Linked DNA regions of Homo sapiens: region 2 is linked to region 1. The links come from fine-mapping of genetic effects on gene expression. Tissue or cell type: fibroblasts. Region 1 holds a variant in brackets; the other region holds the start of a gene. All regions are shown on one strand. Distances are between the middles of the regions.

Region 1 (16,959 bases):
GGTATAGCTTGAATCCACAGCCATCCACTGGGCAAGCCGTGGAGGAAACCTGGATGTTTTAAAATTGTTGCTGAATAAAGGAGCAAAAATTAGCGCCCGAGATAAGGTATTCCTTCTTCTCCTTCTCCCTTCATTCACCCCCTCCCCCTCCCTGTCCCCCATCCTTCTCCACTTCTCCCACTCTTCCCCCTCCCCCTCCTCCTTCTCCCCCACCCGCCCTTCCCTCCTCCCCCACCCCTCCATCTCCTAACCTCGCCTCTCCATTAAAGTCATCTGGAGGCCCATGCTGTGTGCAGGCACCCTAGTGACCACTTCTCCCCCTCGCACATGTCTTGGGGTCTGGGACAGCCTCTGTCCTCATTCCTAGCGAATCAGCAGCGTTTTCCAATTTTCCAGTTGCTCAGCACAGCGCTGCATGTGGCGGTGAGGACTGGCCACTATGAGTGCGCGGAGCATCTTATCGCCTGTGAGGCAGACCTCAACGCCAAAGACAGAGTGAGTAGCTGGACACGCTCGGGTTTCCCAAAGCTTCATTGCTTTTGTATTTGGAATCACTCCCCCAAGCCTGGGTGCCCTTGCAGGACCCACTTCCTGGCCTCAGACCCACCTTGAACCTGTTGACTCTGCTTCTCTAGGAAGGAGATACCCCGTTGCATGATGCGGTGAGACTGAACCGCTATAAGATGATCCGACTCCTGATTATGTATGGCGCGGATCTCAACATCAAGAACTGTGTAAGTACTGGAAACAAGAAACACCGCTTGCAAGCTTTCCAATTTCCAGGAGCATTTCTTAAATAGGTGAAACGACTCCCACAATGGCAGTATTTGAGGGGTCTTCGATGGTCTAAATGCCCCTGCCCATTTCCCCAAGGACAGTGTTTATCTTGGCTAGGACCCAGTTCACATGGCCAGAGATGAGGGAAGTCATAGATACTGCTATGACCTCAGTGCCTGATACAGTGCATAGTAATTCTTTTACAATTTGGTCTTGGAAATGAAAGATAGTCAAAATTTGCTCATCCCCACAAACACCTAGAAGTCCAATCTGCTTTGGCCATTTCTGTCTGTGCAAGGGCTGAGGAAGTTAGAAATAAAGGCATCCACCATTTCCAAAATGTCCTAAAATTCCACAAGGGTCAGTGCAGCCAGTGAACTAAGGTTAATCAATATCCAATCTGAGTAATTCAGAAAGTCCCTTTCCTCCTTACAGCAATGTGAAATGTCACCATTTTCTTCCAGGGGTAGCTGTGCTTTTGCCTGTATTTTTTTTCAGATAATTTCTATCCATTCTCCACTTGGATTTGTCTTCACATCTCTCAAAATAATTTCCTATATTTAGGCCCTGAAAATTCTTGTATAAGTACATATTAATTTAACTTCATCTGTAAGCAGGGAACATAACCAACTTTTCCTCATGGTCTCAATTTCCAGACAAACACCATCTAATATAAGCTTAAAAAATATTGCCCAGAGGAACAGGTATAAATTTCTGAAGAAATAATTTTAAAGAAGCTTTTGAAGAATCACTTTACAAAAAAGAGTGGGGGGGGGGGGAGGGAAACTCAGTCATCATATAAATGCAAATAATTTTCTCCCCTTATTTGTGTTGCAAAGACTGAGAGGAATATCTTATCTTTTAAAACAAATCTGGCTTGGTGACAGGATCAAAGAATGGTGATAAATGAAGATTGCTTGGGATGGGAAAGTGTTAACAGTAGGGCTTCCTCAGTCTAGATATTGGAATTGATCCTATCTAATATTTTTTTAAACTATCAGAAAAAGAGCAGGTTAAATGAAATCTTGAAAGCTGCAGAAAATGTGAAGATTTTTTTTCAGGCAGTGAGACACTACCAGCAGAGACAAATAGCATACAGGTTTAGGGAGACTGTGTAAGTAGCCAGAAAAATCACAATATAAATTTCAATGGAGAGAAGTGCAAGGAATTTATGGAAGAGTAGCCCAAAATATACAAATACGGCTTAGGGTTCTGAATTATCAGTTAGATATTAGCATCAGGTTTATGGAACTATTAATGTCATTGACCCAATGGATTGATGTTTCCCCCAAAGATCAATAACCTATTGATGCCATCTTAAGGAGATTGGGAGCAGCATACAATATTTTCTCATTATCCAAAACTGTATATTCATGTCTACTGATGATTGTTCCTAGAGAAAGACACTACAGAGGTGGGGAAGTTCCAAAATGAAGGTTATAGGGCCACTAATTTAAATACCTACAGATCTCATAATCTGACTGCAGACTGACCTCACTGTGCCGGGCAGATGGCCTAAGTGACTTCAATGTGTGGCTGTCAGGGTCTGTGCACATAACTCTTTTAAAGGTGGCCCTTCCCCAACCCAGTCTATGTTGCTCTGTGGAACCATGGGTACCATGTTTTTAACTCTTCTGATTTTTTCATAGAAGTCACAAATCCAGCTCTTGGTTTCCAACTGTTGCCAATTCATACTAATCTTAAAAAAAATCTAAGTTCTGTTTGGGTCAAAACAAAACAGGTCTCTATTCTGGTTTGCATCTCAAAGCTGCCAATTTGCAGTCGCTGGGTTAAAAAGAAACTTCTCAATGAATAGAGATGGAAAAATTTTGGACTTCTCAGATCTATAGATGAGAATTGAGAGATGACATGGTTTTAATATTTTTAAATCTTGAGACACGTGCATAAGGGAAATCAAAATTTCGTCTCAAAAATTATTTGTTCACATGTGTCATTGCCATCAACTCCAAGAAAAATACATTTCCTGGGAGAGTCCATTGAAAATTCTGACAAGTTATGAAAAATCTGCTCCCAGGAACAGTAATAGTACCCAAGCAGTACCTAAGTCCTTAAGCCAAGTTATTGATGCAGCTCATTTACCATCATTTCTTATCAATCAAAGAACTATCATTCAAATGGATAGGCACTGATTCTTGGTCCAAGAGGCATGCTCCCACCTCCGGGAGTCCATTCCACAGGATACTGGAAGATGTATGGAGACATTTTATAAATTTCAAAATGACTTGAGGTGCTCTTGACACATAGTGTCTAGGGACAAGGGATTTTACCAATACCTGGGATGGTCCCACGTGAAAAAGATTTTTGCTCTAAAATGGCAAAAGCATCCCTCTGAGAAACAGTGAAGGACTGGTTTGAGTATAAACTGCAGATCACTCCTGGTGGAAACCATAAAACACTGTTATAACATATACCTAATCCTTACCTCATGAAACACACACAGAGAATGTGAATTTACAGATGTCACCCACCTGAAAGTCAACTTTCCTTATCTCATTTGATTAGGCTGGGAAGACGCCGATGGATCTGGTGCTACACTGGCAGAATGGAACCAAAGCAATATTCGACAGCCTCAGAGAGAACTCCTACAAGACCTCTCGCATAGCTACATTCTGAGGCAAACGACAGACTCTTAATCAGTAAATGTTCACTGGCATTTTGAAGGCATGGCCCAAGAGAAGAGACACTAGCCATAAAATCTAGTTTCTATTTATCAACGTGTTGTGAAGATGTACCTAATGAAGTTTTGAGAAAGCACAGGGTTATAGGTGTTTAAATTTCCTTTAGTGAAACTCTTATTTATTTTTATGTATTCCTGTTTATTTATTTACTGCCACGCTACTGATATTCAGACCTTCATGATCATCCATCTGGTGAGCAGAGCTTCATTTGTATATAACACTTTCAGAGCCTTCCCACCCATAGGTAGTTCTTAAACCAGGTGAAAGAGCAAAGTTCAAGTGCCTACTTATGTGTCATTCGCTCATGTAAGAGTTTTTAAGAGAGGGCTGATTATCACAGCCCTCTTTTCTCCTGAATTTTTAATGCAGAAGTTTGAATGAAGCAAGGGAAGGCATGTAGGGACAGGAAAGGAAACAATGGAAGGAAAGTGATTCTGTGAAAAGGACAGTGAAGCCAGCTATTTTACCCCCAGGCTGGATTTTTTTTTTTTTTTTTTTTTTTTTTTTTTACCGAGTACACAGAGTACCCAAGTGAAGAGAACGTCATGAGTGTAAGTGCAAATCAGTGGAAGGAGCGGCAAACTGGGACATGCAGAATTGAATTTGCTCAAAAAAGATGAAAGGAAATGCAAACTGTAAATGTATAAATGTATATTGTATTGTATGTACATTTTATATTCATAATAAAGGCAATCAAACTCTAAACCTCTAAGTCCTTCTATAAGTGTGGTGGAAATGTCCTATGTGAAAAAAAAAGCTATATAGGAGGGTTTTTTTTTTCCATTGTTTTCCAAGTTTTGCAGATTAGAAATGTCCCGTACAACAGCACTCCCAGTATTTAATATGTATACAGATCACCTGGGGATCTGGTTAAAATGCAGATTTCTGATTCAGCTGGTCTCAGGTGGGGCCTGAGATTCTGCTTTTCTGACAAGCTCCCAGGTGACAGGCCACGAAATGCCACCACCACACTGAGCAGCTAGGCCGAGAGCCATAAAGACACAAAGGAATTCTAGCGAGCTTTCAGTCCCAGTGGTGTGTAGAAAGAGACCCCTGGTGGTCAGAATGATTTCTGCATGGTAAACCCGCATTTCTTACGAAGTTCCCATTAAGGCTTAACTAGTGACTTTTTTAAATTTAAATTTTAAGTTCTGGGGTACATGTGCAGGATGTGCAGCGGTGTTACATAAACGTGTGCCATGGTGGTTTGCTGCACCTATCAACCCATCACTTAGGTATTAAGCCCAGCATGCATTAGCTATTTTTCGTAATGCTCTCCTTCCTCCCACCCCACCCCCTATACAGGTCCCAGTGTATTTTGTTCCCCTCCCTGTGTCCATGTGTTCTCATTGTTCAGCTCCCACCTATAAGTGAGAACATGCGGTGTTTGGTTTTCCGCTCCTGTGTTAATTTGCTGAGAATAATGGCCTCTAGCTGCATCCATGCCCCTGCCAAGGACATGATCTCATTCTTTTTATGGCTGCGTTGTATTCCATGGTGTATATCTACCATATTTTCTTTATCCAGTCTATTATTGATGGGCATTTGGGTTGGTTCCATGTCTTTGCAATTGTGAATAGTGCTGCAATGAACATATGCATGCATGTATCTTTGTAGTAGAATGATTTATATTCCTTTGGGTACATACCCAATAATGGGATTGCTAGGTCAAATGGTATTTCTGGTTCTAGATCTTTGAGGAATCACCACACCATTTTCCACAATGGATGAACTAATTTACATTCCCACCAACAGTGTAAAAGTGTTCCTATTTTTCTGCAACCTTGCCAGCATCTGTTATTTCTTGACTTTTTAAGTAACTGCCATTCAGACTCCATCCATCTGACAAAGCTCTAACATCCAGAATCTACAAGGAACTTAAATTTACAAGAAAAAACAACCCCATCAAAAAAGTGGGCAAAGCACACGAACAGACACTTCTCAAAAGAAGATATTCATGTGGCCAACAAACATCTGGAAAAGAAAGCTCAATATCACTGATCATTAGAAAAATGCAAATTAACTGGAGATTTAACAATTCTTGTGGACAGGGACTGGCAATGTCAAAGACTTCCCAGGAGAGAACACACAGGTCCATGATTTTTGACCTCCAGACCACCATAATAAAACTAATATCACAATAAAGTGAGTCACAATTTTTTTTGGTTTTCTAGTGCATACAAAAGTTATGTTTACATTATCCTGTGGTTTAATAATTGTGCTATAGCACGATGTCTAAAAAACACTGTACCTACCTTAACTTAAAAATACTTTATTGCTAAAAAAAATGCTAATGATCATCTGAGCCTTCAGTGAGTCATAATCGTTTTAATGGCGGAGGGTCTTCCCTCCATGTGGATGGCTGCTGACTGATGAGGGTGGTAGTTGATGAAGATTGGGATGGCTGTGTCAATTTATTGAAAGAAGACAACAATAAGCTTACCACATCAATTAACTCTTTCATAAAAGATTTATCTGTAGCATCTGATGCTATTTGATAGCATGTTACTATCAATAGAACATCTTTCAAAATTGGAGTACATCCTCGCAAACCCTGTTACTGCTTTATTAACTAAGTTGATGTAATATTCAAAATCCTTTTTTTGTCATTTCAACAATGTTTACAGCATCTTCACTAGGAGTAGATTCCATCTCAAGAAACCACTTCCTTTGCTCATCCATAGGAAGCAACTTCTCAGCTGTTCAAGTTTTATGACAAGATTGCAACAATTCAGTCACATGTTCAGGCTCCACTTTTAGTTTTCTTGCTATTTCCACCACATCAACAGTTACTTACTCCACCGAAGTCTTGAACCCCTCCAAGTCATTCACACAGGTTGGAATTAACTTCTTTCAAATTCCAGTTAATGATATTTTTACCTCCTCCAATGACCCACGAATGTTCTTAATGGCATCTAGCATGGTGAATCCTTTCCAGAAGGTTTTGAATTTATTTTGCCCAGATCCATCAAAGGAATCGTTATCTACGGCATATAGCCTTATGAAATGTGTTTCTTAATAAGACTTGATTCAAAATGACTCCTTGATCCATGGGCTACAGAATGGATGTTGTGTAAGCAGGTATGAGAATAACATTCATCTCCTTGTACATCCTCATCAGATGCACGTCTCCATCAGTCTTGGGTGACCAGGTGCATTTTCAATTAGCAGTAATGTTGTGAAAGGAATATTTTTTTTTCCTGAACAGTAGGTTTCAATGATGGGCTTAAAATATTCAATAAACTATGATGTAAAAAGATGTGCTATCATCAAGGATTTGTGGTACAATTTATAGAGCACAGGCAAAGTAGATTTAGCATAATTCTTAACAACCCTAGGATTTTCAGAATGGTCAATGAGCATTGGTTTCAACTTAAAATCACCAGCTAACAAGGGAGTCAAAGCTTTGAAGCTTTGAAGCCAGGCATTGACTTCTCCTCTCTAGCTATCAAAGTCCTACATGGCATCTTCCAATAGAAGGCTGTTTCATCTACATTGAAAATCTGTTGCTCAGTGTAGCCATGTTAATCAGTTATCTTAGCTAGATCTTCTGGATAACTCGCTGCAGCTTCTTTCTTCTATCAGCACTTGTGCTTCACCTTGCACTTTTATGTTACAGAGATGGCTTCTTTCCTCAAATCTTATGAACCAACTTCCGCTGCAGTTCTCCAACTGTTTTCAGCAGCTTCCTCACTTCTCAGCATTCATAGCATTGAAGAGTTAGGGCCTCTGGATTAGGCTTTGGATTAAGGCATTATTGTAACTGGTTTGGTGTTCTATCCAGACCACAAAAACTTTCTCCATTCAGCAATAGAGCTGTTTTGCTTTATCATTTGTGTGTTCACTGGAGAAGCACCTTTAATTTCCTTCAAGAACTTTTCCTTTGCATTCACAACTTGAGTGAGAGGCATAGTTTTCAGCCTATCTTGGCTTTCTACATGCCTTTCTCAATAAGCTTAATCATTCCTAGCTTTTGATTGAGAGAGATGTGTGGTTCTTCCTTTCACTTGAACACTTAGAGGCCATTGTAGGGTTATTAATTGGCCTAATTTCAATATTGTTTTGTTTCAAGGAATGGGGAGGCCTGAAGAGAGGGAAGGAAATGGGGAAAGCTGGTCGATGGAGGAGTCAGAACACACACAACATTCATGGATTAAGTTCACTGTCCGATATGAGTGCAATTTGTGGCTACCTAAAACAGTTATAATAGTAAAATCAAAGAACACTAACCAACAAAACACATATAATAATAATGAAAAAGTTTTTAATATTGTGAAAATTACCAAAATGTGACATGAGCGAGACAGGAAACAGGCACATGATGTTGAAAAAATGGCACCAATAGACTTGCTGGTTACAGAGGTGCCACAAATCTTCAACTTGTAAAAAATTCAGTATTTGCAAAGCACAATAAATTGAAGCACAATAAAAGGAGGTATGCCAGTAGTTCTTGGCCAGGTGCTAGGCCAGGTCCTAAGACCTGTGGTAAGAAAAAGAGATTGTCCATGACATGCCCTCCTGGAAGAGATGAATATTAAAGGAATAATGAGGAATAAATACATAGTCATGTGCCACAGAATGGTGTTTCGGCCAACAATGAACCACATATACAAAGGTGGTCCCATAAAAATAAAATGAAGCTGAAAAATTTCTATTGATAGCAACATCCTAGCTGTTGTAACATCATAGTACAGTGCATTACCTTTTCTATGTTTGTTTAGATACACAATATACTTACCACTGTGTTATAGTTGCCTACAGTATTCAGTACAGTGACATGTCGTACAAGTTTGAAGCCTAAGAGCAATAGGCTGTATTGCTCATATAGCCTAGGTGTTTAGTAGGCTGTATCATTTAGGTTTGTGTAAGTAACACTCTGTGATGTTCACACAACAAAACCGCCTAATGATGCACCTTTCAGAACGTATCCCTGTCGTTAAGTGAGGCAGTAAGTGCACAGTATCTGTCTGTTGTAAATACGATGAAGGAAACAATACAGAGTGTCTAAGATGATGAGGCTTCTATAAAGACTTCTTTGAGGTGGTAACCTTTAGGGTTTGTCTGAAAGGTAAACAGGAGTTATTCAAGAATCAAGTGTTCCAGGTAGCAGGAACACTGCTCTATGGAATACAGCAAGGATATGAGAAATGTTTGGCACTTGTGGAAATACATGAAAGCCAGTGAAGTCTGATGTAAAACACTAGCACCAAGAGACCCATTTTGGATAAGATCATATATGTTAACCTCTTAGATATGCCTCTAACTATCTGGGAGAGTGTATACGCATAGTCCATAACCAGAAGGTCTTCCAGTTATCTGGTCATAGACACATATAGAGTTGTGAGAATGGTTTGAAATATTTTTGTACCTTTTCTGTCTAGTACTAATCCAGGGAGTCCACCTCCCACAGGCATTGGGGATTTCATTGTTATCTCTCTGACTCCCAATCTTGTTTGTTGGCCCCTCTACCTTCCCCACAGGGGTCCTGGCTTAAGTTTGTCAGACTTTTAAGGCTCAGGGTCCTTCAATTTCTTCCAAGTGAAACATCTACAACACAGACATTTCTCTTGCCAGTGCTGATGTCTCATGTGGCATAACTTCAACGTGTTACCACCATGTGACCAACTTTTCTTTATGGTATCTGCCTCAAATCCACCTCCCCTAAAGAGCTGGGAGGGTACACGAGAGAAGAGAATAAAGAGTTAAAAAGTTTTATGTTGCCACATATAAATATTTGCACTAATAACTAGGTAGAGGGCATGAGAGACAATATGGAATAAATCCCATTAGAATTAAGACAACTCTTAGTTATTTCTGCTAATGGAAAAGATAAACACGTTGGGGGAAATTTTTAAGTTTTTAATCACATAGTCA[A/T]TTTTTTTATAAGGTTCTCTCCTTGCCTTCTCACTGACTCAACTCTTTGCCCACAATCTTTCATTTTGTGTTTGCTCTTCAGTGAAGGGCACACCACACTGGCCAATGGAGAGTCCTAGAAGTTGTTTTTGACCTTCTTTCCCTCATCCTTCTCTTTTAAACAACCAGGTCTTACCAAGTATACTACATAAGTAGTGCTGTGATCTGTCCATGTTTTCCAATCCTAGGTGCCTCTGCCCTAGTTCAGGTCACCATTACTTCTCATCTGGATCAAATAGCCCTCCTAGGCTCCTGGCCTCCAGGCTTGCTTACCTCCAGAATGTTTTTCAAGTTGCAGATAGAGGGATTTTTCTAAAATGCAATGCTGATCAACTCACTCTCCTCTTTCAACCCTTCGATGGCTTCACATTTCTCTCAGGATGAAATAAAAACTCCTAAAAATGTCTTATAAAATCCTTAAAATCTGGCTGCTGTTAACTCTTTATTCTTATCTCTCATAACCTTCCTAGCCAAACTCTAAATTTCAACTCAACTAAATTTTCAGTTCCTTAAAAAATCCAGGCACTTGCTTTACTGTTTTCACATACTGTGCCAGCTCCCTGGAAGACTCTTCTTCCCACTACAGCCCACTCCACGCCATCACATCACTTCTCATTCCTCCCCTTTGTTCTAGCTGTATTTCCTCCAGGAAGCCATCCTTGAGTCCTTAGATTCTATTAGTTCCCCCAAGGTGTCTTCCTGTTGTACTTTGCTTTTTCCCCATAACATCTGTCATACTTCCTTCCCCCTCCTCTTGAACACCCAATACTCATTATGCCAATACAGAAATGAGTAACAAAGGAAGCAACACATCACCAATAATCCTGGTTTCATGACATTCTGATTATTTCTGTGCACATTATGGGTATTGTGTATTTAGCTTTACAACTTCAACTGAACAACTTATTCTAGACATCTTTATAGACAGTATTCTTTTAATGTACAATGAATTATTTAATCCTGTTATTATTGGGTATTTAGGTTGTTTCCATTTTCACATTTAAGACATTGTTGCAGTGAATATCCTTATCCATCCACCCTTTATAATTAACCAGTTATTTCTGAAGAATAAATTGACATCAAAAGTATAAGACTTGCATCAAATTGTATCTCCCTCCACACCATCTTGAAAATACCCACTTTATAAATCTTTTTTTCTTTTAACTTTCAACCTGATCAGCCAGATATATTTGTGGTGATTTCCCCCTAAATGACTAGGAAAGTTCAGCATCTTCATGTTACTGGACATTTAAAAAAATCAACTTTATTTGTCCAATTTTCTAAGTCAGGTCTCCTGGAAGCAGCATTTCAAATTAGGATTCTTGTGTAAGTGACTTACTGAGAGTCCTCTATAAGGGAATGAGAAAAAACAGAACAGGGCAGAAGAGGCAAATATGTGGTTTCAGGAGAAATCCACACACAGCGTAATCCCATGGGGTGCTCAGGAGCATAAATTGTACCACCGAGGCCAGTGGGCCAGGCTGTAATGTCCTGCATCAGTCACTGGCCATGGGCCAACCTCAGAGGAGACAAAACTTCCCAGGTATCTTCAGGTAAAGTGACTCTCATCAGCCCAGGACAATCCTCTGGAAAAGGGTGAAGATAAGTCATTAGTACCCAACATCTGAAGCACTGGCAATATAGGTACACCACCCTGGGAATGGGGATCTCTATGGATGCTAACAGCATGTCATGTTGGGTATTTAAAAAAAAAAAATTCTTAAAAGCTAAGCATATGAAACCTTCCTGGAATATGTATTGTAAATGTACTTTCCTACTTGTTGTTATGTAGAGACAAATCAATCAAACTTTGTTTTCTGGCTTTGATGACCATGCTCGGCAGGTCTATTGCAATCCAAGATTATTATTTTTTTAATTAACTTACATTTTCCTCTAGTATTTTACAAGTTTGTTAAAAAATTTAAATCTTTAATCTACCTGGATTTACTATGGGTGTGTATTGGGTGTGAGATAGAGATTTGACTTAGTTTTTTCCTAAATGATAGCTGACACTTCAATATTTAAATTAATATAATGAAGTAATAAATAATAAAATAGTTGGTACTTTCTTTTTTTTAGACAGAGTCTCATTCTGTCGCCCAGACTGGAATGCAGTGGTGCGATCTCAGCTCAGTGCAACCTCTACCTCCCGGGTTCAAGCAATTTTCCTGCCTCAGCCTCCCGAGTAGCAGGGATTACAGTCATGGGCCACCATGCCTGGCTGATTTTGTATTTTTAGTAGAGACGGGGTTTTGCCATGTTGGCCAGGCTGGTCTTGAACTCCTGACCTCAAGTTATCCGCCCTCCTTGGCCTCCTGAAGGGCTGGGATTACAAGTGTAAGCCATGGCACCCGGCTGTAGTTGGTACATTTTATATGACAGGCCCTGTTCAAAGTAAGCCTTCCACAAATACTAACCTACTTAATCCTTGCAATAATGTGACAGGTAGGGAGAACAGATGAAGCGAGGCACAGAGAGGTTACATAATTTGCCCAAGGTCATAGCTAATGAGTACTAGCAAGTAGGGCTTTAAATGCATTTAGTTTTTCTTTCCCCTATGCACTTAACTGGTATGCTGTACTGCCTCTCCCAAATAGATAACCAATTATTTCAGTATCACTTACTGAACAATCAATCCATCATTTCTTCTTATATCTAAAGTATGATCTTGGACTTCCTGCTCTTTTCACTGTTCTGAATTTCTGCACCAATTAGTTTTAATTACAGTACTAGAGTTTTGTTATACTCTGTAATATTCAGCATTGTAAGTCCCTCCCATTAGGTTTTTTCCTGAAATTTCCAATTCTCATATTTACTCTTTCAGAATACCAAGTCCAAAGACCAAATACATAAACAAGAAAACAAAAAATACTTATAAGCATTTTGATTTTAAATTTTGTTAAATGCGTAATTTGGGGGAGAATTTGATTTACAATTTGTCTTATTCAAGAAAACAGAATGTCTCTTTCCATGTATTCTAGTCTTTATTTTCCCTTTATTCTCTTATTACTTTCATTAAGTTTTCTTTATAGAGGCCCTACACATTTCTTGGTAATTTATGTCTTTGTGAATAGTGTCATCTTTTAAAATTATTTAACAGGTTATTAATCAAAATCTGGTTTTTGTGTATTTATACAATTGGCCACTCTGCCAAACTTCATCTTGGTTTGGCAGAGGTATTGGCATCTTGTAGCAATTAAATTAGTGGTTCATTCTAACGAAAGTAAATATTAGAAGGAAACTTGCCTCTGCTATTCACTGGTGATCAGCCATCATGCCCTACTATCATGAACAATGGCATAAACATGTATGAATAGAAAGCACGCACAACTGCAAACACATACTACACAAATGTGTAGTAAATGGACGTAAGCTGAAAGGTACCTGTATTTCTACTTTTTTCCCATTTATTTCACGAGTTTTCCAAGACAGTCGTATCTGCAAATAATTTTACCTCCTTTCTATAACATGAAAATCTTACTGTATCTGGTGCAACTGTAGCTGGTACATCACTAATTCATAAATTAAGGTGGGACGTCGCAAAAAATTGAACATACATCCTGTTAAGCATTTTAAGCTTAAAATAGATAAATGTATACTTGGGTACCAACCTTTTAAAGAAGGGTCAAAGCCTGTTCTTGGGAGTATGATCTCTCTGATGAGAGATCAAAAGTTGTCTTTGTTGAATTCTAGTTCCTTTAAAGCAGAAAAGGAACTTGACATTAGTGAAGCAATCCAAGTGCAGAGTTTTTACTGATCACCCCCAAATTTGTTATCCTTCTCATATCTAATTTGACAGCAGTTCTTTGTAATGACTCTTTTCCAAACCTTTCCAAAGTGTTGACTTAGTTTTCCCGGGAATTTTTCATTTGCCCCCAATAGCTCATCAATTTTCATATTTAAAAAAATAATTTACATACAATGCTAAACACAGCTGCCTTAAACAGATTTGTGAATAAACACAGCTGACTTTTGGTGAACTTAAGCAGGGTGAAGGAAAAAAGCAAACTGGCACACAAGGAAGTGGCAGACTTTTGGTGTGTGGCCTCAGCAGCACCAGCCTCAGTTTTACAGAAGGAATGAGTAGGTTAATCCATCAAATTGGCCAAGCGGTAGTCAAAAATGCTTTTGGAGCCATCACATTTAATATACACAAAAAACAGACACATATGAACATATATATGTATGCATACAATATTATTCTACTTTAATTTTGCCATGGGTTTTTATTGTTGTCATTTTAAAAATCAGGAGTGGATTTAACTTTATTAAATGTCTTTCTGGCATCTATTAAAAATATTCTGATTTTTCTCTTTTGACCTATGAATATGATAAAGGATACTGCATTAAAAAGAACTGGAAGGCCGGGTATGGTGGCTCATGCCTGTGCCTGTAATCCCAGCACTTTGGGATGCTGAGGCGGACAGACTGCTTGAATCTGCCAGGAGTTTGAGACTAGCCTGGACATGGCAAAACCCCATCTCTACAAAAAAATACAAAAATTAGCTGGGATGTGGTGGTGCATGCTTCTGGTCCCACTTACTTGGGAGGCTGAGGTGGGAGGATGGCTTGAGCCCAAGAGGCAAAGGTTGCAGTGAGCCGAGATTGTGCCACTGCACTCCAGCCTGGGTGACAGAGTGAGACCCTGTCTCAAAAAGAAGAAGAAAAAAAGAATAAATTTCACCTGGTCATGATGCACTTTTAATGTTTTTTTAATCAATATTTTATTTAAACATTTGTATTCATTGGTGAGGTTATAAAGCTTTCTCTTTTTAAAACTGTATTTTCTCGGGCCGGGCGCAGTGGCTAACGCCTGTAATCCCAGCACTTTGGGAGGCCGAGGCGGGTGGAATATGAGGTCAGGAGATTGAGACCATCCTGGCTAACACGGTGAAACCCCGTCTCTGCTAAATACATGGCGAGCGCCTGTAGTCCCAGCTACTCAGGAGGCTGAGGCAGGAGAATGGCATGAACCCAGGAGGCGGAGCTTGCAGTGAGCAGAGATCGAGCCACTGCACTCCAGCCTGGGGGACAGAGCGAGACTGTCTCAAAAAAAAAAAAAAAAATTGTATTTTCTCCAACCCGCAGAACAGTTGTCTTTCTCTTGCTTAAAAAAATTTCTTATTCAGTTATACCTCTGGCTCTACTCCATTGTTTTAGAGCCCTTACATTAATATTGCATAAATGCATGTATTTGCATAAAAAGCTACTTCTACTTAACATGATCCCATTATAAAAATAAATTATTTCCAAAGTTGGTTCAGTCCGATGCTTTGCTATTTTTAATACAGCTATCAGGAAAATCAATATTAGCGTTTTAGGGGTTTCTAACTAAAAGTAAGGAATCCTATTTCAAAGACCTTACGTAGGCATGAAGCAGTGAAGGAAGAGACCAGATGTAATTTTACATGTGTATCCTCTCTCCTTCCACAAATTCTATAGCAATTTCTTAGAAAAAAATGCTGATTTGAATACATGAAAGAAGCTTAAAACAAGAGGAACTAAAGTCACTTCTTCAATATAAGTTTGAATATCTTCAAAATAACTACTATTTGAGTATGAACAAGAAACTTTCGAAAGAAGCTCTTAAAATATTCAAACATCTGGCTGCATGTGGTGGCTCATGTAATCCCAGCACTTTAGGAGGCCAAAGCGGGAGGATGGCTTGATCCTAGGAGTTTGAGACCAGCCTCAGCAACATAGTGAGACCATGTCTCTACAAGGGAAAAAAAAAAAAAAAAAAAAAATAGCCAGGTGTGGTAGTGCACACCTGTAGTTCCCGCTGCTTGAGAGGCTGAAGCGGGAGGATCACTTGAGCCCAGGATTGAGGTTGCAGTGAGCTGTGATTATGCCACTGTACTCCAGCCTGAGCAACAAAGACCCTATCTCAAAAACAAAATGAAACAAAAATACCTGAAACATTTTATTCAAGTATATTTGCTGTTGTTTATCACTTACACAAAGGAGAAATAACCAGTCTTTCTCTCTTAAAGTACATCTAAATTCATTAAGCTGGCAGCCTTTTAAAAAGATGCTTCACTAGGTTTCGTTTGTTGTTTTAATGGATTGCAAGTAAAACTGTTTTTATAGACTATTGATTTCTAGCTCCAAATGAAAACAGTAAATCACACAAAGGTTTTATTTTTGTTGTGGCTGATGAACTATAAAAGGGAAGAAGGGAGTGCTGACAGAGACTGGGGCATTCTTTTCAGCCCTCACACTTGGCTTTCTTGGAAGCTGGAAGACAATCTTCATCTCCTTCTGATGGCCGAGGTTTCTTCACTGTAGAGATAATTCCAAAAGCAGTTTTTCTAGTTTCTGTAAAACAAACAGGGAAACCACTGTGCTTGAAGTTAAGACATAATTTAAAATGAGGTGGTTTAACATATTACTTTGGCTTACAGCAATAGCAAATGATAAGCCATAATGAACTGCTATGGCTGCTAGTGCCATTTACCGTCATTATCTTTTTTTCCCAACAGACACAAATATCAGTATATTATTAACATCTAATTCATTCCTAAAGATTACCTCATGGGTAAAACTGCAGGACAGTGTTATCTCTAATGGTCTGTCCATGGCATCTTATGTAGCCAGAACCCAGTCACAGACATTGATGTAGCAGACACTTTATATATGGTAGACAGACAAATCAAGAGAGCAAACACAGCAATCAAGTGTATGGCTCCCATGTGGAGCACATGCTTGCCTCATTTTACAGCATGTACCCTATCTCTCTTATTAGAACATCAAGGTACCTCTGAAGAATCAATTGCATTATATTGCCAACACTCAACAATGGCCTGGTTATGCAAAATGTGTTCAGTAAATACTAGTTGAGTTAATGAATAAAATCACTCATAAATTTATTGATCTCTTTAACTGGTGACAATGAACAAAGAATAAATAGAAATTATTAAATGCTTAGATTAGGCTGGCAGCAGAGTTCAACTTAAATTTAACCAATTTTTCCTAGAAACCTACTAATAGGCTAGGCACTGTGTCCATACAGAGGGTATTAAGATTCCTAACAGACAGTGCTTTTCCCTATACTACATGCATGCGAGAAGCACAATAAGAGCAAATATAATAGGAATGGAGGCATCCACAAGAATTAACTGCCTGGTTAAAGCAATGAGGTATTATATAAAGGTGACACTACTCAGAATAGGGTAAACGGAGTAAGAAAAAGAGAAATATTCCTTTACAAAGGCATGGAGAGAAAGATAAGAAGAACCTAGGTAAAATAGTTTAGGGGACAATATGGCTGATGTGAAGTAGGAATACAAAAAAATTAGGAGAAAATAGAGTTTGGAAGGGTAACTTATGAAAGGCCATAGTGTCATGAAAACAGACCCAAACTCTGTCCTTAGAAATGGAAAGGGATTATGGAGAAAGAGAGAGATACCCATTAGCTACAAAGGTGGCAGAATCAAAAGAACTTGAACAGAAATTTAGCTATGAATTATTCCTTATTTCAAGTAATAAACGTAAAGTCAACCATAAAGTGTTAAGCATTATTTTCCCATTTATCAAGATTAACTTAGTAAATCTACTCTGCCAATTATTT
Region 2 (16,959 bases), 47 kb after region 1:
TTTTTAAAATCAATATCCATTTTTTATATCTGAGAAAACTAAGGCATTATTAGTGGTAGAACTACATGTGGATGGAGGCAATTTGTTTCAGTTCTTGCCTAGTGTACTGCTTCCTGAGCAAAGCAAGCAGAGACTAGAGTTGTTTGGGAGGGAGGAGGAGAAGAAGAGAAAAGAAGAGAAGGGAGACCAGAGAGGAGAGAAGGAGAGTAGAGGAAAGGAGAAGTAGGAAGGGAGAAGGAAGGAAAGGAAAGAAGTGGAAGAGGGGAGAGAGAAGTGGAGAGAAGAAAAAGACAAGACAGAATAGGGGAGATGAACAGGGAAGAGGGGTCAGAAGTTGGCCTGAAGGGATGGCTGTGGCAACAAGTATCTGCACCTTGAAGAAGACCATAGAAATTTCTGACTGGAAGATAATAGTACTGTTTAAGACTGGTAGCAGTGGCTCACACCTGTAATCCCAGCACTTTGGGAGGCTGAGGCAGGAGAATCACTTGAAGCCAATTCACGACTAGCGTGGGCAACAAAGTGAGACCCTGTCTCTACAAAAAATAAATTAGCCAGAAGTGGTGGCACACACCTGTAGTCTGAATTACTGGGGAGGCTGAGGTGGGAGGATCCCTTGAGCCCAGGAGTTCCATGTTATTATACAATGAGCTATGGATTGCACCACTGCACCCTGGTGTGGGTGACAGAATGAGACCTGTCTCTTAAAAATCCTAGCTACTTGGGAGGCTGAGGCAGTAGAATTTCTTGAACCTGGGAGGCAGAGGTTACAGTGAGCAGAGATTGCACCATTACACTCCAGCCTGGGCAACAAGAGTGAAACTCCGTCTCAAAAAAAAAAAAAAAGTACTGTATAATTATGATAAGCATTTTACATCAGTTATCTGATTTGATCCTTACAATAGCCAATGAGAGAGATATTGTTATTCCCATTATATCAAGGAGAAGTCCTGGGCTCAGATAGGATGGCTCTTGAGTCATTTCTTCTTCTGCGGGAAGCCTAGAAAAAGAGGATGGTTTTTCACATCCAACGCAATCATTGAGCCCTTCTCATCCTCCCAGAAGAGCTCTCTTTTCTGGGCTGTGTGTGGGCTTGGGTGTGTGCTTGATTAGTCTTTGGCCTTATCCTAAGTTTATTCCATTCACCCCTCCTGAGTGAACTGAAAAATGCTCCACCCAACCCCTGTCCTCTTGCAGCTTAAGGCCGAGGGGGAGCCAGGCAAGAAAACCATATTATAAAATGATTTAGCCAGATGTATTGGGAGCACAAAGCAGAGATTTATCTCCCAGATTGAGAGGGAAGTTTGGGAGATCTGAAGGGAAAAAATGGCAGTTTCCTTGAGGGAGTAATGCTTGAATTAAATTTTGACACATGGAAGTGGAAGAGGAACATACATGAGACAGAGATCTAGGGTGTTGAGGGTATATCCAGAGCTGGCACAAAGTAGGTGGTACTCAGCCAAAAGTAACTGATTGAATAAATGAACTCATGGCCTCTTGTTTGACTTTGTTCCCATATCAACAGAATTGTAGCACTGTTGGATGTATTATTTAATCACCTGGCCAGAAATTCACTGAACTGTGCACATGGTGCACTAGTGTGATACACCAGCAACTGAAACAGAACCATCCTCTGTGTCCCACATGGTGGGACACTTATAGGAGCTCTTGGGGAGACTAAAAGAAGATGCCTTAACTCCAGGCTGATATTACAGTTGCCCTATTCATCACATATCTGGAAGTTTGTGCAGTGAACCATCTGCCCAGCCTTTCCCAGAAGCCCTCATAAAGCAGACCAGAGGGGTTAATTGCTAAACCTAGAACTCTAGTGGCACTCCATAGGACATCACCAATCCAGGGAGCTGCTCACAGCTCACAGTGATTCCTTCCTCATCTTCTTACCTTCCCCCAGAAACTCTTGTTACTGACCTGATATCATAAAAATTTGTCCACTTTCTGTGCTGGGGTAATCTGCCCCTGCTTGCAATATTAGTTTTCTTTTGAAGTGCAGGTAAATGAAAGTGAAATTTTTTTACACTCATGTTTCTATTAAAAATTGGAAAATGAGACAGATGTAGGCTTGTATTTACAAAAATTTGCATAAGAACATGCTTGATTGTGAAAATAAAGAGTAGTCCTACCTCTTTAAGATGTAAAGTGTGCCTGATTTTTTAAAAAAAATACAATTTAAGGAGCCATTATGAAAGAAATCAAAGGAAGAATTATGACTGGTATAGGGAAAAGATGCATGATGATAGACTTAAATGTAAAGAAGAGGACTGAAATTTCAACAGGATTTTTGAAAAACAAATAGAATAAATGATGGTATTAGGATTCTCCAGAGAAAAAGAATCAACGTGTTTGTGTGTGTGTGTGTAGAGTGACAGCGAGAGAGAGATTTATTTTAAGGAATTAGCTCAAGTGATTATGGAGGCTGACAAGTCCTAAGATCTGCAGTCAGCAAGCTGGAGATCCAGGGCAGCTGATGGTGTCATTCCGGTCTGAGTCTAAAGGCCCGAGAACCAGAATTGCTGATGGTGTAGTTCCAGGTAGGCTGGCTCAAGAAAGAGCTGACATTTCAATTTGAGTCCAAAGGCAGGGAAAAGCTGATGTTCCAGATCAAAGGCAGTCAGGCAAAGGAATCTTCCCTTTCTCAGGGGATAGTCAGCTTTCTGTTCAGGCCTTCAACTGATTGGATGAGGCCCACCCACATTAGGGAGGGCAATCTGCTTTTCTCAGTCTACCTATTCAAATGTCAATCTCCTCCAGAAACATGCTCACAGACACACCCAGAATAATGTTTGACCAAATATCTGTGCACCCCATGGCCCAGTCAAGTTGAAACATAAAATTAACTTTCACAGTGATGCTGTCTAGAAATGCTTACATATTAAGTGAAAAAAAAATTGCTCAGGCAACAAAAACTTTGTATCAAAGGCAAGTTTAAAAAGAAAGTTTATTGGAGGCAAAAGAAAGCACAAGTCCTAAACAGAAACTAACATTTACAAATGTAATATCTGTAGCTTTTACTGCTCAGTATGTTGTAAATATGGCTTAGAGCTTGCAAGACAAGTTATATGAAAAAACCTAAGTTATTTCTGGCATTTTTTCGTTGCAGCTGATAAGTGTATAGAAACCTAAAAGCTATTTGTGTTGGAGAGTATTTTGAAATGACTAAAAATTTTTTTTGGAAATGGCGCTTCAAAAAGGCACATTAGGAAGTAGCTTATTTTTGTGTATGGAGAAGAGGTTTTTTTTTTTTTGTTTTTTGTTTTTTTTAGAATTTTAAAGTACACTTTTCAGAATTGGTAACCATGGCTACGGATGGGACTCCAGTAGGGGTCAGTGTTACCATCAGACTTATGAAATATAAGCACGATGTAACAAGATTTTGTCAAGACACAGAATTTAAGCCAATTTATTGTACCATTAACAAGAAACCACTTTGAGCTCTAAATTTAAAAGCCATACCAATAATAGCTAAGGCACTAACCATGGCCCACACAGTTCATGCTCCAAATAGCTACAGTGGATGTTGAGAACTCAATTTTGAGCGGCTGAAAGAAATTTACTTATTAATGTCATCAAGGTTAAAATATCCATCTTGGCTCACCAGTGATGGCTGAATCAAAGATTTGGTTCTTGTGGTTGATGATATAACCCCTGCCCCTTAAAAAAATCATATAAGCAGATTTATTCATATATAACAAAATTACATCTTTGGGAAACTCATCTGGGTAGGAATGATCTAGCCCATTTTTTGCACTGAAACTGGTTTTCAGATATGAAAATTATGGACTAACCCTTTATTGCAGCACCAAATTGTGAAGTCGAAGACTATGATCCAAAAAAGACACTCTGATTTAAACCTTTAGACTTGATGATAATATTGCTTAATTTGCCTTTTTCAATTGCTACTGCTAGTGCGAATAAAAATTACAAAAGGAAGTTTTTGAACAGCAGTGCATTGTATTGAGAACTTAAAATGATAATATTGGAACACTAGAATTTTACAAATATCTTGCCAGTAATTAGTCTAAATTGGAGATTAGTAAACTATGGTCCATGGGTGAAATCCGGTTTGCCACCTGTTTTTGTATGCCTCGCAAGCTAAGAATCATTTTTAGATTTTTAAGTATTTGAAAAAACATTTAAATGTGTTATTGAACAATTAGTGTCAGTCAACAACTTATTTTAGAAAAATAATGTGACCCTTCTTGCGCAGAGTAAAACTCATACCTACCTTGCATGGCACACAGGTTTCTTTGTGATCTTCCCCAAAGGTCTACCCTTGCCATTTTCCACAGCTATGGCAAGTCTTCCATGTGTTTATGGACCCTGTCAGCGTTGCATTCTCCTTTCCTCAGTCTTCTAATGAACTTTCTACTCGAGCTGATATGTTAGCTCTGTGAATTTTTTGGTCTTTCCAAGCAGGGCTAATACCTCTTTCCTCTGGGCTCTCATACCTTTGGTTCATACCTATATTAGGAGACTTTCACATTGTACTGTAATTATTTACTCGTCTGTCTCTTCTACCAATGAACATCTGCAGAGCAGAGAACCTGCCTTATTTATTGACCCCAGCACTTAGCACAGTGCCTATTAATATGTAGCTAGGGCATGCTTATTGAATGACTAAAAGAATGGATCAGGCTGGGTGCAGTGGCTCACACTTGTAATCCCAACACTTTGGGAGGTCAAGGCAGGTGGATCACCTGAGGTCAGTGGTTCAAGACCAGCCTGGCCAACATGGCAAAACCCCATCTCTACTTAAAAATACAAAAATTAGCCAGGTGTGGTGGCAGGAGCCTGTAATCCCAGCATCTTGGGAGGCTGAGGCAGGGAGAGGTGCTTGAGCCCGGGAGGAAGAGTTTCAATGAGCCAAGATCGCACCACTGCACTCCAGCCTGGGCAATAGAGCGAGACTCCATCTCGAGAAAAAAAGTCGCAACAAATCAAATAAAATAATGGATTAGGCATAGTTTTTCCTAGAAATGGGATATGACTGTGATGGTAATTTTACTTTAAGATATCATTTTGTTGAATATAGAAGGATTCATAAAATTCTAAAGAAACTGTAGAATAAGATGTGTCCTATCACTTCTTCAATGAAAGCCTTACTTCTATTTTGATTATCTTGAAATACCACAAATCTCTCTAGATTTTGCCCCAATTACTGATTGCCCTTTTGAGTAAAACTACTCCAAAAGTTGTCCACCTTCTGAATTGCCATGTTCTGTCTTTTGATCTCTCGAATCCATTCCAATCTGTTTTACCCCTACCATTGCACTGAAACAGTTCTTGCCTTACTTTGCACTTAACTCAGTCAATTTCTACCCCCTTGAAACATTTTCTTTCCTTGACTTTAAATATCCAATTTCTCTTGGTTCTTCTCCTGCCTGACTGCCCCCTCATTCTCAGTCTTTGTTGGTTTCTTTTCCTCTCCAAGATCTCAGGATGTTGGTGCATCCCACGGTTAAATCCTCAGGACTCTTCTGTAACTACTTTTCCTCTTGGGAGATTTTCCCCTGAAATTGTATCTGCATAGCTGACATCTCCACTTGAATAATCCAATAGTATCTTAAACTTAATGTGTCCTTTTAAAACAGAGCTCCTAAAACAATATCTGGTTTGCATTAGACACTCATTAATTAATGTTGACTCAATGAATGATTGCTACTTTAATCTATTTTTTAATTGAGGAATTTAAATTTTCTTCTCATTAGAAATCTTTCAGGAAGGATTGGGAGCTGACAATGTCAAATGTGTTCATTGATAAAAACTTTCCATGAAAGTTGTCTCTGTGGAATTTGTGCTGCTGAATAGATTCCCCACTAGGGGGTATGCATGCACCACATACATTTCGAAAACAGTCCTGGTTAAGAAAAATTGAGTGATTAATAAAATAAATAAGGGCTCTTGGATGTAGCTGTTGTCTGATTTTTCATTTATCTTGTTTGGAGGAAACTTTTTAAAGGTTACCTTTATTTTGTAAAGAGAATGAAAATTTTCTAAATGGAAAGAATCAAAGAAAAAATGTTTTTATTTTTAGTATGTCTAAATTAAAACAAAACACAATTCACTTTTAGGCTGAAGAATTACTTTACAACATGAATGATTCTTGGTTATAGGCATTATTCTACACTCAGTTCAACTGACTAATGTTTATTGAACACCTAGTATATGGCAGGAGTAAGGAAATATCCCTCCCTTTGATAAGTTCACAGTCTAATGGGGAAGACAGTCATGGAAATATGAAGCATAATGCAACAGTAAGTACTATAATAAATATAATTTAAAAGTGCTTTAAAAGCCTACAAAGAATGAAATTAACTATGGCGAGGGGTGCTGTCACTGAGAAGGAGACATTCAGGTGTCCCAGACTAACTGCTTTTATCCTAACTGGGCCTCAAAAATGTCTGTGTTGATGGATTTGAGTCCCTGTCTCTAGCATGTGTGTTCTCTGTATTAGTGATCTGTAGCCCCAATAAAGGCCACAGGGTAGTATCTGGATATTTACTTACAATACTCTTAGTACTACACTGTCTAAGCATTCTAGTTTCCCTAGTCTTTTCTCACCCAATTCTGGGGGCAAGGGACACCCAGATAATTAGTCTAGTTGAGTGAGGAAATGGGGTACAAATGTGAGAGACTGAAAAATTTGGAGAAATGAAAGAGTGGCCCTGTGGAAGTCCGCTGCACTGGGCATGGGAGGCCATCAGACCCCCGATAGACATGATATCAGCATGCTTGACTGACTAGTGAGTTGCCAATGAACCCTATGGCTTAGGAAGCTTTTTTTGTGCTTCTTAAAGTACATCTAGGTTGTCAGGGTATGAAGGTTTATGGGAAAACAAACTATCCTAAGCTTATGTCCTGTGGAGGGATATGTGTGGGTTTTCATAGATGGGATTACGCATATGCATTTAGATGAGCTAGATGAGTACCTAGAGGGAAGAAGGGCTGATAAAAAGACAGTAACTATGATGTAGGACTCCACAGCTCTTCTGCACTCTCCGAGAGCAGTTCTTAGAGCAGGAGATTGCCAGATTGCCAGTTGGAAACCTCAGAAAGCTGTATTCTCAGGTGCCCTCACTGACAATCTTATGAGAATGCTATTGTAGGCAATGAGAGTCTAGATAAGAATTAGTACTTTTAAAAGCAGTAATTTTTTTAAATGCTAGGAATAAAAGGGACAGAAAATAAAGACATGATTTGATTTAGATGCCAACACTTTACTTACTGTCTCTGGTATAACTGTTGAAGAGTGGGTGGGCAGCGGGAGGGAAGAAGGAAGCAACACCTTGATATGGCTTTTAAACACCAGAAAACTAAGGGCAGAACAAACAACAAATTTAGATGAATATTTAGATATTTTATGAATATTTTGTGAAGCTATATCTTTGGCATTTCTTTGTGAGAAAATTACAGAAAAGTATACACTAGATTTTGGCATTTTTATGAGGACACAATTATTTGTTAGTGAAGGTTAAAGGGAAACTGAAAGAATTCCAGATTGCTCTGTCAGGATTTTGGAATAACACAATGATAGATGAAATTTAAACTCAACATAAGCAAAGTAATGCTGCAGAAGCCGAGATTTTCAATAACTATGTTTATGCATTGTGACAGCTTATAAATTAGAAACCTAGCAACTCTTAGGAAATACACTCAGCCATCACTAGGGATAATATAACAGAGGTGACTGTTCTATAAAAAAGGGAGCTTGGACTTGATGCTATATTGACAATGAAGGAGGTAGTAATTTAAAAAATAGTATTTTAATGATTATTTGCTGTATTTATATGTCACACAATTTAAAAGTTGTTATGGAATAAACATTTGTTTCCTCCAAAAAATTGGTATGTTGAAATCCTGCTCCCCATTGTGGTGGCATTAGGTGTGAGAGAGTATCTCATTGTGGTTTTGATTTGCATTTTCTCTGATGGTTAGGGATGATGAGCATTTTTTCATGTTTGCTGGCCACCTGTATGTCTTCTGTCGAGAAGTGTCTGTTCATGTCCTTTGCCCACTTTTTAATGGGGTTATTTGTTTCTTGCTTGTTCCTTCATTTAAGTTATAGATTCTGAACATTAGGACTTTGTCAGATGGGAGAGGGAGATGATTAAGTCATGAGGGCAGAACCCTCCTGAATGGGATTAGTACCCTCATAAAAGGGACCCCAGGCCAGGCTTGGTGGCTCATGCCTGTAATCTCAGCACTTTGGGAGGCTGAGGCAGGCGGATCACTTGAGGTTAAGAGTTTGAGGCCAGCCTGGCCAACATGGTGAAACCCGGTCCCTACTAAAAACAATACAAAAATTAGGCAGGTGTGGTGGCATGTGCCTGTAATCCCAGCTACTTGGGAAGCTGAGGCAGAAGAATCGCTTGAACCTGGGAGGTTGAGGTTGCAGTGAGCCGAGATCGCGCCACTGCACTCCAGCCTGGGTGACAGAGCAAGACCCTGTCTCAAAAAAAAAAAAAAAAAAAAAAAAAAAGAAAGAGAGACCCAGAGAGCTCTCCTACCCCCTTTGCCAGGTGAGGACACAGCAACATGGCTAAATTTACTGTTGCCTTGTTCTTGGTAAATGTTTGTTGTTAAGCCACCCAGGCTATGATATTTTTGTTATGGCATCCCAAAGGGACTAAAACAAGACAAAAGCAAAAACTAGAAGCTGTTGTGAAATATAAATGGGCTACGTGAGGGCTGTAAGAGTGTAGGTGGTAAATCATATTGACTAGAGGTTTAAATACAAATAAAATGATTAATTTTCAAAATCTGTGTGTAATTACTCTGGAATATTATTTGACAGAGCCAAGACAGAATATATAAGCTGAACTGATTAGGGTATTCAAGGGGAAGAATACAAAAGTCAAAATAAGTTAAAATGAGTTGAAAAGTTAAAATGAAAAAAATATCAAAAGTATCTTGGGGAATATACTACATGAAGGAATTTTTAAAAGACCTTAAGACAATTCCAAACCTCAAAATAAAAAAATGGAGACATTTCAATGCAGTCACATATGATCTTGGATAAGTTATAAAATTTCTCCCAGCCTCTATTTCCTCCTCTGCACTGAAGGGTGAACAAATGGTTTCTTAGATGCATTCCAGCAACAAACTATTTGTCTTTTGTCTGAGATTTCCTCTCTCCCAAGATCCCCAGTGGATGCCTAAAACCCCGGATAGTACCCAATCGTATATATACTATGTTTTTTTTTTTGATCTGGTAAGAGAGAGGGCTACTAAGTGACTAATGGTGGATGGCATATACAGTGTGGATATGTTGGACAAGGGATGATTCATATCCTGGGTAAGATAGAGATTTCATCACGCTACTCAGAATAGTGTGCAATTGACAACTTACACATTGTTTATTTCTGAAAATTTCCATTTAATATTTTCGGACCGTGGTTCACCACAGATAACAAACCAAGAAAAGCGAAACAGAGAATAACTAACATAAGTAAGGTTGAAGAAATTTCCTCATCCATCTTAACTGTTAGATAATATTGCTTTGTGGCCTAGGTATTATATTCAACTCTTCCTCTGACTCAATGGATTGGTTTGCTTATCCTAGGCAGAGAGGAGCCTCTGAAATGTTGATCACAGCAAAAGAGCTGTGAACATTAGGGCTTTTTTTTTTTTCCATTAAAACTTTTTCTGAATGTGTACAGGGAAGAATATGGGCATAGTAATCAGATAAACTTGGGTTTGAAACATAACTATTCCTTACCAGCTGATTGCAAGAGCTAACAACCTTCCCTATCTGGAAAAACAGAGCTAATACCCACCTTGAAGAATGAAAGTACTATTCAGCACTCTGATCAATATACTTTGAGGTTTTTATTCCTTTTCTTCTTATTTATAATCCGCTAGGGCCTAACAAGAAAAAACAGATTTGATTATTTTTAGAGTCTTAAACTACAGAAATCACTGCTGGCTTCCAATGAAACCTTCAAACAAAATGGAATGAAGCAAGTCTCACAAATAATAAAAATCAGCCGCTCTGACAGGGTTTGGATACCAAGGGGAATTTTAGCCAATAGGTATTAAATCAACATACACCTCCAGGATTCCTTTATAGAAGAGTATAACCGGTCATTTCTTTGCTTATGTGTAAGACTTCCAGAATGCTACGGGAAAATTAACTCTCTTTTCAATATATTAGGCTTTGAAGTCTAAATATAAAGGCAATCAGGGTCTATTTTCAGAGCGGAGAGGACTGTTTCTAGACATCCAGGAAGGATTAGTCCAAATGGGTGTAACCCCCTTGGAGGCCTTGTCCCCAGAGCATCCTCATCTCCTGGGTGCCAGGGGCTTAAGGAATCCCCCTCCCTCCTTTTTTTCTTTCTTCCTCTTCTCGGAGCTCCCACCCTCACCCCATTCGGCTGCTTCTTTTCCATCTTCGCTTCTTCCCATAAGCGGTCAAAATAGAAAACGGAAGTACCTATTTGTTGCTTAGTGTAGTGCTCAGAGACGTTTTTTTGGTTGTTGTTTAATTAAGAAAAATAAAATCCCCCTCTAGGTTCTTCATTTCGCAATGAGCCCAAACATCCGCTGGCTCATTAGGCCTCTTAACAAAAGAAAAATGCCCCCACTGAACTGTGGCTGACTAGTGTGCGGAGGCTGGGGTCGGCTGGAGGGGTTCTAAGTATCTATCATGCGGCAAGGACAGCTTCCCGGGCGAGGGGACCCGGGATCCCGGGAGGCGCGTGCAGCGCCGCCCCCTCACAGTAGGGAGGCGCGGGAGAGGCGGCGGTGCCTGCCCAGCCCGGGTATCCCGTCCCAGGAGCGCGAGGGAGCGGGCAGCGGCCGGAGGCGGCGGCGGCGGGGACGCGGCGCGGCTGCCGCAGGGGAGCGGCGGCGGCGGCGGCGGCGGCGGCGGGCGCGAGGGGCGGGGCGCACTCCGCAACTTCTGCCGCTGCCGCCCGGGCGCTCTCGGCGCAGCCGAGCTGCTGCTGCGAACTGTGGAGCTGCCAGCGGAGCCCAGCCCGAGCTCCCTCGACTCCGCGCGTCCCAGGCGTCCGTCGGGGGCCGAAGCGCCTCCCGCAGGGAGTCCCCGTGAGGCCGCGCTGCCGCGTTACCCGCAGCGGCCGGGGGTCCGGGGAGTGCGGGGCTCCGAGACAGAGCCAGGCGCCCCCCAGCGGTCGGCGCGGGCCCCATGGCTGGGCCGGGCGGAGCGGAACCGGTGAGGTGAAGCCCCGGGGCCGGCAGCCGGAGGCGCGTGGCCGGGGCGCCGGCTCCATGGGCAGCGGCACACGGCGGCGCGATGATGGACGTTAACAGCAGCGGCCGCCCGGACCTCTACGGGCACCTCCGCTCTTTCCTTCTGCCAGAAGTGGGGCGCGGGCTGCCCGACTTGAGCCCCGACGGTGGCGCCGACCCGGTCGCGGGCTCCTGGGCGCCGCACCTGCTGAGCGAGGTGACAGCCAGCCCGGCGCCCACCTGGGACGCGCCCCCGGACAATGCCTCCGGCTGTGGGGAACAGATCAACTACGGCAGAGTCGAGAAAGTTGTGATCGGCTCCATCCTGACGCTCATCACGCTGCTGACGATCGCGGGCAACTGCCTGGTGGTGATCTCCGTGTGCTTCGTCAAGAAGCTCCGCCAGCCCTCCAACTACCTGATCGTGTCCCTGGCGCTGGCCGACCTCTCGGTGGCTGTGGCGGTCATGCCCTTCGTCAGCGTCACCGACCTCATCGGGGGCAAGTGGATCTTTGGACACTTTTTCTGTAATGTCTTCATCGCCATGGACGTCATGTGCTGCACGGCCTCGATCATGACCCTGTGCGTGATCAGCATTGACAGGTAAGGGCCGGACCGCCCCGTCCCAGGCTCCGGCTGGGGACCGGCTGGCAGCTCAGCCCCGCGCGCTCGCCTTTCCTGGGAGGATCAAGCTAGACTTCAAGGCGGGATGAAGGGCTGCGCTTAAAACACCGCTCCCCCCAATCCACCCTACACCAACCAAACTTCGGTTACGGCATAGCCTATGTACATCTTTAAAAGAAAAACCGGAAATGTTCTGGTTTACTGTAGTGACGAATTTAAGACCAAAGTTAAGAGTATTTTAAGCCTTAGCATTTCCACCAGCGGGTCCCTTGCCTTGGTTTTTGGAAGGAAGGGATTTGGTGCTCCCTGACTTGATCAAGCCTTGCTGTGAGCCTTAAAGAGTCATTAAAAAATAATAATAATAAGTCGGAGAAAAGCCACCTTGCTTACCCCATTGTGGGAGCTACTCCCTAGGCCAGTAAAAGGACCTTGGATGGTTCTAGAATTGGGGTTTGTATGTCTTACACATTGCATCTTTATGATGGTCAGTTCGGAATCGCATTCTTGCTTGTGGAAGTCTGGTTTCAATGTTTGGTAATGCTGTCTGTATCTTGCGAGCTTGCTGACTGGAGCCTTCCTCCAGGTCTGAATGGCTGGTTCTAGCCTTTCATCATAGCCCTTGGGAACCTTCTCTTGAGAACTCCCCCACTGGAGTAATTGAAACAGAGGCTGACCATCTGTCAGGGATGCTAGGGGAAAAATTCCTGCCTTGGGTGTCATATTGAACTAGGAGACCCACAGGGTTTCTTCAGGCTGTAAGGTTACAGGCTTTTGAAATGGAGCTAGTCTTTGACCCTTGAAATATTATGCAGTTGACAACTTGAAGTATGGTCTCAATCCTCTTTGGCCTAAAACAACTCTATTTCACTTGAAACTGAAATATGAGACCTTAATATTCACACTCAGAATTTTGCCGGTGTTTCAAGACTAGTATCCTGTTGTGTTTAATGATACAGAGAAATGGTTGCTTATTTTCTTAGTGGATCTATAGAACCTTTATATGTGTAGATCTTTCAGCCTAGGGGAAATAATTGATGCCTCCACACTTAAAATGACAGTGCCTCAAAGGATGGTCTAGCATGAAACTGAGATTTTCCTTTTTTTCTTCTTGAAAACACTGCTGTTTGTGGTTTGCTGGTACTTAAAATGTTCTGCTGTATGTATTTTTTGCTTGACCAGGGTTTATAATTACTAAATAAAGGAAATAATAGAAAAGGGAATATTTTCAAGAAGAAAAACACATTGTAGCTCCATTTAGCTAACAATTTAGGTTATTTTTCTTTAAATTGATTCTACCATTTTATATATCATGGTAGAAGCTGCTGACAGCAAACAAGGAATTACTTAAGAGCAGAGCATGAACTGCATATGTGAGAATATTAGCACCAAATTTGGCAGCTGAAGTTCTGAATTACAGTAGTTAAGAATGACAAAACATATGTATTTACAGTCTGACTGTGGCAACTGGAATTAGGAGAGTGCACTCAATACACATAGTAAGTGTATACATGAATTATAAGCACAGAAATCTGACTGCTCAGCCAACCAAAACAGAGCATCCTGCATGAATGGAGTCCTTTTAAATGGAACTTAGTGTAATAAAACAAATAACGGTTTATGCTGCAAGTACTGTATTTATAACCATTTTTTAAAATTTCACAGTTGATAAATGATACATAAATAATACCTTGTGCTAATTTGTCTCCTAAGACAGCCAGTGTTTCTCCTCTTCTGGGCTACATTGAGGTTTGGCTGAGATCACCTTGTGATTCCTATACATGAGCTAAAGGCATTCTCCACTCAGCGTGCATGTGTGACTTAGCATCGGCAGGCATGTCCTGAATACTGAGAAGACATTAATCCTTCTTGGCAAGAGCTTAAGATTTTGTTGTTAACTGTATTCTTATGATTGTCACAAATTGTGGTAACATAGGCATATAGATTCTCCTTTTACCTATGAGAATTGCCCCATTGGTGAATTCTGCTTAAAAATTATTTTAGAAGATCAGCATATCATTTCTTTAGAGAAAATGAAGAATTGATAAAATTGGAAGACACAGACTGATTTTCTTCCAAGAACACTGAGAACTAAAAATGAGAAAAAAGGAAAATATATTATTTCTGAAAAGCATGTTTTCTGCAATTCCGTTGTAGAATATGACAGATGATATTAAATGTGCTGTGAAAATATGTAAAAAAAAAATCTTCATTCCCTTGTTCATTCCCTCTTGAGTACCTAATATAGGTTACACTGTGCTTTGTGCAGCATAATCAAAGATTAATTACAATATTGTTGCTTTTGTGCTCATTACAGGCTTTTGTGTATTTGGAGAGTTTGGATATCTGTTGGGCATTTAGCCTGTCTAAAATGGAACCTTTCATTTTTCTTAACCACTCCCCATCACACCGGGATGCTTTTCTAATGTAATGCCATACTGTTTTTCACAGGCTTCAGAGCTCCCATCCCGTCTTTTTCAGAAAATGATTTGTATTCATTGAAAAAGTAGCAGCCATCAGATGAGAACTTTTATCTTTCCCCCACCAAACAATCTGATCTGTCCTGCATGTGTACCCTTCTTTTTACTTCTTTCCAGTTAAAAAGCAAAAAGACATTGTGAGCCAGCAAATACCAAACTACTTGGACTTTATATTCCATCTCCCCACCTTCTCAAGGTCTTTGTTCCTTTATTGTTTCTTCATGGATGGTCTTTTTTGTTGTTATTGTTTTGTTGTTTTTTTGGGGGGAGTGAGGTGGAGGGGGACAGAATCTCACTCTGTTACCCAGGCTGGAGTGCAGTGGTGCCATCTCTGCTCACTGCACCCTCCGCCTCCTGGGTTCAGGTGATTCTCGTGCCTGAGCCCCTGCAAATACCTAGGATTACAGGTGCACGCCACCACACCCGGCTAATTTTTGAATTTTAGTAGACACGGGGTTTTGCCATGTTGGCAAACTCATGACATCAACTGATCCGCCCACCTCGGCCTCCCAAAATGCTGGGATTACAGGCGTGAGCCACCAGGCCCAGCTTATTGATGGTCTTTCTTCAGCTTTTCCTTTCTACTGTGTCAAGTTTGGTTTTCTATCTTTTAAAACCCTTCTTTGGCCTCTGGCCTCACTTCTTCCTCCAGCCACGGCTCTGCTTCACAGTTAAGCTGCTCAAAGAATTGTATCCATAAGTTGTCTTTTCTTCCTTGCGCTTTAGATAGATGACTTTGATGCTCATCAGGTTTACTGCAATATTCTAATTGGCTTTCCTGGTTCCACTTCTGTCCAGCCCCGAGCTATTCCCTAAGAAGAAGCAAGAATGGTCTATTTAGAAACTTTTTAAAGTGAGATAATTTACATATAATGGCATGCACAGATCTTAAATATTCAATTTGTATGTTGACAAATATATATACCTATGTGACTAATGTTCTAATCAAGATATAGAATATCTTGTCATCCAAGAAAGTTCCCTTGTGCTAATTTAAGAATGATCTTTTAAAAATAGAAATCAAATTACCAGCCAGATGTGGTGACTCACAACTGTAATCCCAGCACTTTGGGAGGCTGAGGCTGGAGGATTGCTGGAGCCCTGGAGTTCAAGACCAGCCTGGGCAACACAGGGAGACTCCCATCTCTACGGAAAAAAAAAAAAGAAAAGAAAAGAAACAAAAAAGCCAGGCATGGTGGCAAATGCCTGTGTTCTCAATTACTTGGGAAGCTGAGGTGGGAGGATCACTTTGGCCCAGGAGGTTGAGGCTGCAGCGAGCCAAGATTACACCACTGCACTCTAGCCTGGGCAATAGAGTGAGGCACTGTCTTAAAAAAAAAAAAAAAAGAAAAAAAAAAGAAATCAAATTACTTTTTATGCATAGTTTTAAAACATGAAAAATAGTTTTACATATCATTTAGGGAAGCTTGTAGAAAGAGTAAAAGTATAAAATAGTGCAAGGGAGTGGTTGACGCCAAATTCAGGACAGTGATTTATCTCTGGTGGGGTGGGTGGTGGTGTAATCAGTAGTATATATATCACCTATATTGGTAATGTTTTGTTTCTTAATCTCGGTGGTGGATATAGACTTATTATCCTTTGTATAACTTTTTGTATGACTGAAATATTTGTTAAAACTTTTTGAAATTCATATAGAAAAGTATATGTATGTGCACAATTCTAAGGATGAAGCTTGATGAATTTCCACATCCATGTAAACAACTATATTAAGAAATAGAACACTGGCAACCTCCCAGAGGTCCCCTCCTCTCCTTTTCTAGTTTCTATTGCTTGCAAAGGGAACCATTGTCCTGACATTAGCATCATGCATTGGGGTTTTGCTTGGCTAGAACTTCATATAAATGGAATTGTATAGTATGTACTCTTTTGAATCTGGCTTCTATTTCTCAACATAATGTCTGTGAGAGTCATCTGTAGTTTTTAGCCTATCAGTGGTTCATTCATTTTTATTGATAAGTAGTATTCCGTTGTATAAATATACCATAATTTGCTTATCCATTCACCGTAGATGGACATTTGAGTTTTTTTCTAGTTTCTGGCTATCTCTAATAGTGCTGCTCTGAACATTTATTTATGTGCAAGTCATTTGTGGATATGTTTAAATTTATTTTGGGGAAATACAATCCTAGGTAATAAGGTACTTTGGAACATTTTAATTTTATCTATCCCCTCACACCTTTTATGTTATTATTGTCATTCATTTTAGGTCTACAGATTATTAAAACCCATTAGATATTATTTTTATTGTTGTAACAGTCCGTATTCATTCTTCTTTGCTTACATGTTTATCTTTTCCATTGTTCTTTGTTTTGTTCTGCATTACTACATTTTCATCTGAGATCATTTTCTTCTGCCCAGTTAGATGCCTATTAGCATTATTATTTTTTTAAATTAAAAACTTTTTTTTTTTTACTTCACATAAAGAGACAGTCTCGCTATGTTGCCCAGGCTGGTCTTGAACTCCCGGCCTCAAGTAATTCTCCCACCCTGGCCTCCCAAAGTGCTGAGATTACAGATATAAGCCATCATGCCCGGCCCAGCATTATTTTTTTACTGAATGTATTAGTCTGTTCTCATGCTGCTAATAAAGACGTACCCAAGACTGGGTAATTTATAAAGGAAAGAGGTT

Direction of the effects. Positions count from the first base shown, and alleles are read on the strand shown. Sizes are in standard deviations (SD) of each study's normalised expression.
For the expression in fibroblasts of the gene that starts at base 10,905 in region 2, allele A in region 1 goes with a lower level than allele T (small effect, 0.21 SD a copy in GTEx).

The links.
Region 2: it holds the start of HTR7, and the variant in region 1 is fine-mapped to the expression of HTR7 in fibroblasts (GTEx, PIP above 0.99).

Annotation. Positions count from the first base shown.
Region 1 is chr10:90,899,318-90,916,276 of GRCh38, reverse strand. RPP30 (ribonuclease P/MRP subunit p30) reads right to left here. Exons shown (of 11, transcript NM_006413.5): 11 at 14,086-15,707. The coding sequence ends at 15,598. ANKRD1 (ankyrin repeat domain 1) reads left to right here. Exons shown (of 9, transcript NM_014391.3): 6 at 8-106; 7 at 397-495; 8 at 636-734; 9 at 3,301-4,181. The coding sequence ends at 3,411. Among named protein-coding and RNA genes, the nearest start is that of ANKRD1, 13 kb to the left of the region's middle. The variant A/T (reference allele first, on the strand shown) is at 9,351.
Region 2 is chr10:90,851,985-90,868,943 of GRCh38, reverse strand. It overlaps HTR7 (5-hydroxytryptamine receptor 7), which reads left to right and starts at 10,905. Exons shown (of 4, transcript NM_019859.4): 1 at 10,905-11,811. The coding sequence starts at 11,273. RefSeq lists silencers at 10,868-11,237, 11,258-11,307.